2 linked regions of the Homo sapiens genome follow. The protein of the gene in region 1 interacts with the protein of each later gene in a biochemical or structural test. Each region holds a gene or a part of one and is shown on either strand. Other genes may lie near its edges. The genes, in order: LMX1B and NPHS2.

Evidence for each region.
Region 2: the proteins of LMX1B (region 1) and NPHS2 form a complex in vitro, tested with the Homo sapiens proteins (one study listed by BioGRID).

The regions. Positions count from the first base shown.
Region 1 is NC_000009.12:126,616,928-126,620,527, reverse strand, and holds part of LMX1B (LIM homeobox transcription factor 1-beta), read right to left. Parts: intron 1-3,600. UniProt on the Homo sapiens protein: Transcription factor involved in the regulation of podocyte-expressed genes. Essential for the specification of dorsal limb fate at both the zeugopodal and autopodal levels.
Region 2 is NC_000001.11:179,574,219-179,578,334, forward strand, and holds the start of NPHS2 (podocin), read right to left. Parts: upstream 1,731-4,116; 5' UTR 1,647-1,730; coding exon 1,373-1,646; intron 1-1,372. UniProt on the Homo sapiens protein: Plays a role in the regulation of glomerular permeability, acting probably as a linker between the plasma membrane and the cytoskeleton.

The sequences.
Region 1 (3,600 bases):
CACCCACACAATCAGGTTTTCCACCTCTCTTGAGGTGCAGGAGAGGATAATGGATCCCCCGGAGAATGGAATATTTATTAAAGTTCCACCAGGTGCCTGTGTAATCCTCACAACCACCCTGCAAAGTCACATCATCACCCCCAGTTTGTTGATGAGGCCCCAGCTCAGAGATGGGCAACCACTTAGCGAAGATCACACAGCTGCTAAGACTTGGGGCTGGGAGGTGAACTCAGGTCTGACTCCGAGTCTAAAGCTCTTTTCATGGCTGAGGAAGGCAAGACTTTTACAGTGTCCTACGAAGGGAAAGGCAATGGCTTCCCCAGGGTGCTCCTCATCCTCCCTGCATGGAGAGGCTCATGGTAAACCCTGTGTACCATGGAACCTGGGTAGAGAACCTGTTGGCAGTGTGGTGTGTGTCCTTGGAGACAAGGTATTCCCTGCCATGCTCATGGTGAGAAGAGTAACAGCAATAACTTCCAGAGTATTAATAACAAGCCAGGCAAGATGCCAGGTCCTTTGGGGCACCTTATCTCAAGTCCTTATAAGAATACTTGCCCCCAGCAGAATAAGTCCCCATTTCACAGAGGAGGATCAGGTAGGTGCCACGGCCGTGGGTCTCTAAGCCTGGCTCCAATGGACAGGGCAGGAAAGAGCTGACAGTCACCAATCACATACCCCAGAGGAGATCCTCCCAGCCTGCTTCCCCCACTCAAGAAAAATAGGGCAAACAAATAAGGCCACACCAGCCCAGCGCCCGGGGAGTCGAGGGTGAGCCAGGAGTCACTGTGAATAATGCCTCCGTTCAGCAGCAGGGGACTGCAGCCTCAGGAAGGCCTGTGCTTACCGTCTTGCACACAGCCAAGGTGCCGGGGTTAAATGGAGAGGTACCCTCCAAAGGGCCAGAGGGTCCCCAGACTTGGGCTGCCAGGGTGAGCCCTTTGGGCCTCAGCCCCCAGAGACAGCACCATAGAAGCCTTTTTGTAAGGCAAAGTCCTGGCTCCTCCTCCCAAGCAGTTTCCAGGACAGGCGCTCTGCAGCCCTGAATGAGTTTGATGGTTGGGGCAGGGGGGCTCGCTGGTTGGGGTACACACTGGGGAAGGGGTGCTGCTTGAGACTGGCACCCTGCAGGAGGGCCTATGGGAGGCCTTCCAGGCTGGCAGAAGAAGTAGCCAGAGAAGGCCGGAGCCTGACTGCTCTCCCCCTGGGCCACACCCGAACGCGGGAGCTGGATGGGGAGTGTGGGGGGAGAGGTGAGCCTCCCAAGAAGGTCTTTCCCGGGGTAAACACTTCCAAGGAAAGGAATGCGCAGGGCAGAGCGGTTGGGCCACTGGAGCCACAGCCAGCTGGGGGAAATTTTTTAAAAACTCACCCCAGGACTCAAGAGGGCTTTCTGTGAAACTCAATCAAAGCCTCGATGCTCCCCTGCTGCCAACGTAGGCACATCCTACCTGGACAGGCGAGCCCAAAGGGCCCCCAGCGGGCCCGGCGGAGCCCTGAAGTCTGTGTCGCCGAGAGGCTCGGCCGCCCGGGCAGGCCCTGCGGGCGGAAGGACGCCGCGGCCCCGCCGCCGAGGTAGGAGCGCGGCCCGGGCCGGAACCCCGCGTCTCGCCGTGCACAAAGGCGCCCGCTTGCACCCCAGCGGGTCTCGGGTCGCCAAACCTGGGAGCTGTCTTACAAGCGATTAGACTCCATTTTGTGACAGATTTTTGGACTCTCCCACCGACCCTCCCCCCTTCCGGAGCCTCCTCCAGGAATTCTCCACCTCTTCAGGATAAAAACCCTTTCCAGACGAGCGACAGACGGCAAGAAAAGAGAGTTACATAATTCTATTCGGCCAAGCCGCCAAGATAAAAACATGGGAGGGGGGAAAGTGCCTTATTTTTCATTTGTTCTCCGGTGGAGGACGGTGAGAGGTGTTCTGATTTGGGGGAGGCTGCGTTTCCTCTCCGTTTCCTAACTGGTTTTCTGTCCGAAAAGGCTGCTTTTTCTTTTTTTTGAAGGAGCCCCCAAAACTCACACATGGGGAAAAAGGAGACTTTTGGAGTTAAGAGTGAAAATGCCCAAACTCCACGGCCGGCGCTCTGCTCTGCCCGCCAAGGATGTACAAGAGGATTTTTATCAAATTCGGCTCAATGTGCCCCAGTGTCAATTAATCACCCCCGTGGTGCGTAAGACAACTTGGCACTTCTGGGTGTCTGGGATCTTTGAGAACAAATCGAAAGGAAGAAGAGACATTTACTAAAAATGGCAACCTCTTTTTAAGGACGGAGCCCTGCAACTCAGCCAGGGGTGAGGACACATTTTTCAGAAGTTGTGTTTGGTGGGGGGATTGTTAATTTCTCAATACCGCTGACGCACAGACTCGACAATATCAAGAAGGCACGTTTCTGCGCCCGCTTGCTTGGATTCCTGTCTGAAAAGCATTTACGCACAGATGAAATAAATATGCATCTGCAATTCTCAAAGAAAAAAAGAAATGTGAATAAAAAAATTTTTATTGTGCAAAGAACATCCCTTTCCAGTGGCTGCTGCCTGCCTGGAGCGGCGCTCCATCTCCCTGTGAAACGACTCACTGGCTATTTGTCCTGATAACAATCACCCCACCCCCCACCCCCCACCCCCAGCACATCCTGCCGGCCGGCCTAACGCAGATACCTAATTGGCGTTATTGGAAAAAATAGAATGAGGGTGGAGGAATGAACTGTCCACAGCTAGAATAATGCACTCCCCACCCCAGGCTTCAGCCCCACAGGATCCAGACTGAGTGAGGTCTTCGGACCTGAGATTCGCCCTGTGCCAAAAATCATTCTCAACACACCGGACTGCACTGAAGAAGCTGGCTGTTAGGTGACTCTTTCCTTTTCTTTTTAAAACAAATATACTTTGGACAAAGCAGTAGCAAATGCTTAACGTTTAATTGTTTTGTAAGATGAGGGGGTGAGCCGCTCATCTCTAAGGCAACATCCAGCTGAAATTTCGTGACTTTACCATTCTGTGCCTGAAGAACCAGGGGTTATCCTTTCCTTTTTTTTTTTAAAGAGAAGCTCCGTAAATAATTATGGGGAGTGGGGGGAGGGCAGAATATGTACACGCGATTCATAAGTCTTTTCAATATATTAACAAGTTTTTTTCTTTTTTTTAAGCTGTGCAAATGATTTGGAGGCCGGTTTTAGTTTCCTGGGCCCCCTTCCCCCATGTGTTGTCGTAAAGGCTGGTGGCTGAGCTGGGTGTAAGTGGCACTGCCAGAGCTCGGGATCAGGCAAGCAGAGTGAGGCCAGGGGTGCAGGGCGTGGTGGGGAGGGGGCTAGAGGCTGGTGCACCCTACAGAGGGGCTCCTCTAGCCAGCCCAGAGCCCACAGCCACATCTACCCCAAACTATTTTCCCCATTCAATTTGTGCTGCTCTATGCTTGGGCTGTGACTGAACGGACTGGCGTCTCCCTCTCCCGGAACTAGAATCATATTAGTTCAGAGCACAGCACAAAGCCGACCTACGGCAGTGTGCCTAAATCTGGGGTGCTTCCTACTGAGAGGAAGGCCTCAGCTGCACTCTGGGACCAGCAAAACAGCTGAACCTCTGAATGGACTCCAATCCCTACCC
Region 2 (4,116 bases), on another chromosome or scaffold:
TGACCAGAAATGAGGGGCAGCAGCAAGCAAGGGTGAGCATTTCAATCAGACTGTCTTACTCTGGGATTTTGGCTTCTCTACTTCCCAGCTACACGACTTGGGCATGTTACTTAATTTCTCAGAGCATGTTTCCTCATCTGTGATAAGAGGATGGTGAGAGATTAAATAACTCAGTAAAACACCCAGTGTGTGCCTGGCATATAGTAGGGGTTTCATAAATGGTGGCTTCCTTACTTGTCTACCCTACCAGTGTGATCTGCTGCCTCACAGTTACAAGCCCTCTAACCTCAGCATTGAACCCAGCAACCATTTACTGAACAGAGGTTTCTGACTGATGAAAGGGTATCATCAACTGGGCAAAACAGTATTAACGTGACCCATTTAAATTATACCCCAACTGCAGAAATCTTCCTTAAATGGTAGCTTTCAGTGATCCAGCATGTACTGCTTTGCTGGTAACTAGGAAATGTTAAAACTTCAGAGCCAGCAGGAAGCAATATAACACACTATTCCTTATTTAATTTCTTTTAACACCTGTCATCCCACTAAAGTGGTAATCATTTTTTTCTTCCACTCATTATAAAAAAGACTGGAGGTAGACAAAATTTTCCCAAGAGTTGTTTCTCCTGCAGAAGCAAAAGAGACACCTTTCTTTGCATTCCCTCCTTTGATCTAATTTTCCTCTCTCTTAGCTTGCAGCTGGAATTGAGTAAGTTTTTGTTCCAGACTTTGTGCAAAGTGCTTTGGATGCCTTTTCTCATTGTATCCTTACCACTACCCTCTGAGGCAGGTACTGTTATAGGAGAGATGGTTAAGGTCCTTCCTATGATCACATGGCTAGCAAGTGGTTGAGCTGTGATTTAAACTCAGGTGTGGCTCTTCCTCACTTGGCTCTGCTGCGACTGCTTTTCAGAAAGAATGATCATCTTCCCAGAAGTTTAAAATGCTTTTAGGTAAGACCGAGGGGTGGGGACGCTGGAAGAAGAATAAGCCTACAGCCTACAGCCACCAGCTCGTGCATGTCTTTACTTAAATTAGGTGCCCGTATGCCCCTCCATGGCCACAAAAACCAAGTCCATGGCTCCTTTGCCAAGTTGCTTCGTCCCCAACCTGTACCACACTCGCTCCCCAGTCCCATCCAAGGCTGGCCCCGAGACCAGTATATAGTGATATTTGTATTTCTTCTGATGTTCTTTGCTCACCATAGCAGGTTGCTGGGTTCCTAACTTACGCCCTTCCGTTCCTGGGAACCTGAGCATCCAGCAATCTGCTCTGGCTTCAGTGGGTCTCGTGGGGATGACCCTTTCCACCTTATCTGACGCCCCTTAGTTACCACCTGGAAAAGTAGCAGATAGTGGTGCTGAATCCGTACCTTCCTCGGGCCGCTCGCTCTCCAACAGCGCCACCACCTCGGTGCCCTCCTCGCCGGAGCCTCGGACCTCATCCACGTCCACCACCGTGGCGGCGGGCGCTCGGGGCTCCCCCGGGGTCCCCGCCCGTCCGGAGCCCGACGGCTCGGGCCCAGCCTCCTGGCGCCCGCGGCCTCCGCCGCTCCTCTCGGCCTTTGCCCTCTTGTTCTCCTTGTGCGGAGTCCTGCCGCCTCGCCCGCGGGACTCCCTGGAGGAGCTCCGCGCCCTCCTCTCCATCCTCAGAGCTGCCGGGCGGCTGGAGCAGCAGCGCGGGAGCGCTAGGGGCACGGGAGCGCAGTCCCTGTGGAGTCGCTGCGGGTCCGCGTGGCGTGCCCGGGGGACCCTAAAGACCGTCGGGTGGGGGCTGAGGGCGAGGGGCGGGACACCGGGGCCGCGGGCGGGGCGCACCCGGAACCCCGACAGCTGTGTCTTGGTGGAGCTGTGGACTGCGCCCGCCGACTCCCACGGCCGGGGCGGCGCTGAAGCAGAGAGAGGCCTGGGTGGGAGAGCCGGCCCCGGGCAGGGTGCGGGCGTTGAAAAGTGCGTGTCTGCAGGTGCCAACCCGGGCTGTGAAGACTCATCTCCTGGAGGGTTCCTAATGTCATGCTAGAGGGCTGACGGAGATACAGAAGCTCATCGCAAGCTCTGGTTTCTCTTCAAAACGAATACATCTTTTACCTTTTACTGCAGATTTTCGTGGAGAGGAACAGTTGTTAGTAACCTTTTTTGTCTGTTTGTTTTTAGGTCCTGCTTGGGCAGGGCCAAGTAAAAAAGAAAAAAGAAAAAAGAAAAAAACCACAAAAGGTCATCGAATTAGGGTCACTTTAAGGTAAAATCAGAAATTTCGCCTCATCCCCAACTTTCCTTCTTGGAGTCGTCTCAAGGATGCCTTTCTCTCCTCCCTACGTATTTCTTATTTTATATCCTGGCCCTAGTTATTCTACATATGCATTAACCCCTAATGATGTTGGCTGATTCCTCCTGGGAGTATTTACATTTTAAAGGGGATAAAAGAAAACTCTCTTTGCGATGTGTTTCGTCTCTGTTATTATTTAGGGTCTTTATTAATGCTTATGCCTGATGTTGATGATGCAATGCTTCTTGAAGAATCATAGGCAGGAAGGGGTCTGGTCTAACTTCTGTTTTTAGGAAGAGACACTTTGTCCCGTGCTTCCATGATGAAAGCAGGAGTTGGGCTTTTTCAGGGTTCATTGGCCAGGCTGGATCTAGCAACGATCTGGGGAGCTGCCTCACCCTCTTCTGAGGGACTTGAAACATTGAATAGGTTTATTTCTCTTTCACTTTCTGTTAATAATTTGTTTCTTACTGAAAGGGAGGTTGGTCAAGGTAACCCATCACCCAAGATTTATGATACTACTCAGATAGTTCAGATCACATGATGGCAGAAATAATGCTCACTGATTTTTTAAATTTTTTAAATATTTATTGAATTCACACAGCAATAGCTTTTTTTCTCTCCCAAAACCTTATTAAACACTGAGGACCTGAAGTAACTGAAGTGCGTCTGGAAAAACCATTCCACTACTTTCTTCTATATGTTCCAGGTTAGGCCACTGGGAGTAAAGTAAATAAAAGATGAGCAATCCAGTCACTTAAATAGATTTTTTACTGTCTAAACCTGATCATTGCATGGGCTAAGGAGGATAAATATTTCCTCGCAAGGGCCTGCCTCAGTTGATAGTTTCTGCCTACAACACTACAGTGAGAAAAATTCCAAAGCTGCGTTTGGCTCAAAGAGAGAAAGATATCATGATTATTTCATATTCCCCCAAATTAACATTTGCTATTAAACACAGCTAGCATCTTTATCATCCTTTAGAGATTTCCCTGTTAGAAAAAGTGACAAACTATTTGTAGCATTTATTGGTGTTTTTCCTCAGCCTGGTCCTGTTATAAATTAATTTCATCCGCATCCCTAGCTAGACTCTTATACTAAAATTGCACCTGTTTTTCATTCCAAGAATGGAGCAGGATATCTGGTCAAATGATATTCCCCAAACTGTACTGTCTTTCAATAAGAGAGAAATTCCTTGTAGGAGAAAAATCAATGAGAAAAGGCCCTACTGGGTGTTGGAGCCCATGCTGAGCACTTGTTCTCAGTCACCTTTGCTCAGTTTCCTTGGCTTCTTTGACCACTGACAAGTTACATTTCTATATCTATACATAACAGCAATATAAGCAGCTGCTTATAACACAAGTCTGCTGGGATTATGAGTGACAATGACAAAATCAGAGAAGCTGCATACCATTCCATGATAAAAAGGTCAATGCAGCATGGCTGGAAGGTGGAGGAGTTGGGGAAGGGAGTGCTGAGTTAGCAGCTAAGTCCAGCTGGCTGTCCTCATCTACTTTTACAAGGATGCTGCTGTTTTCTTTTAGATTCCTTTTTAATTGAAAGTGTTGCTCATCCCTTTGCTGAAAATATGATATGCACACATTCTGAAACTCTCAATACTTTACTCCTTGTTTGGATTTGTTAAGAAACTGACATCTGTGGGAACTGGGTTACTAGAAGAAAGGGAGGATCAATTAAAGCTGTTTACTTTTATGTTTCCAAGGTGAAAGATTATGAAAGAGTGCAAGGCTTTCTAAAGTATTACACTTATTCCCAGTTAGTGTTTTGAAGTATTATATCCATATGAATAAGTGAATGCATGAATACTGATTCATTTGGATTATTTAATGG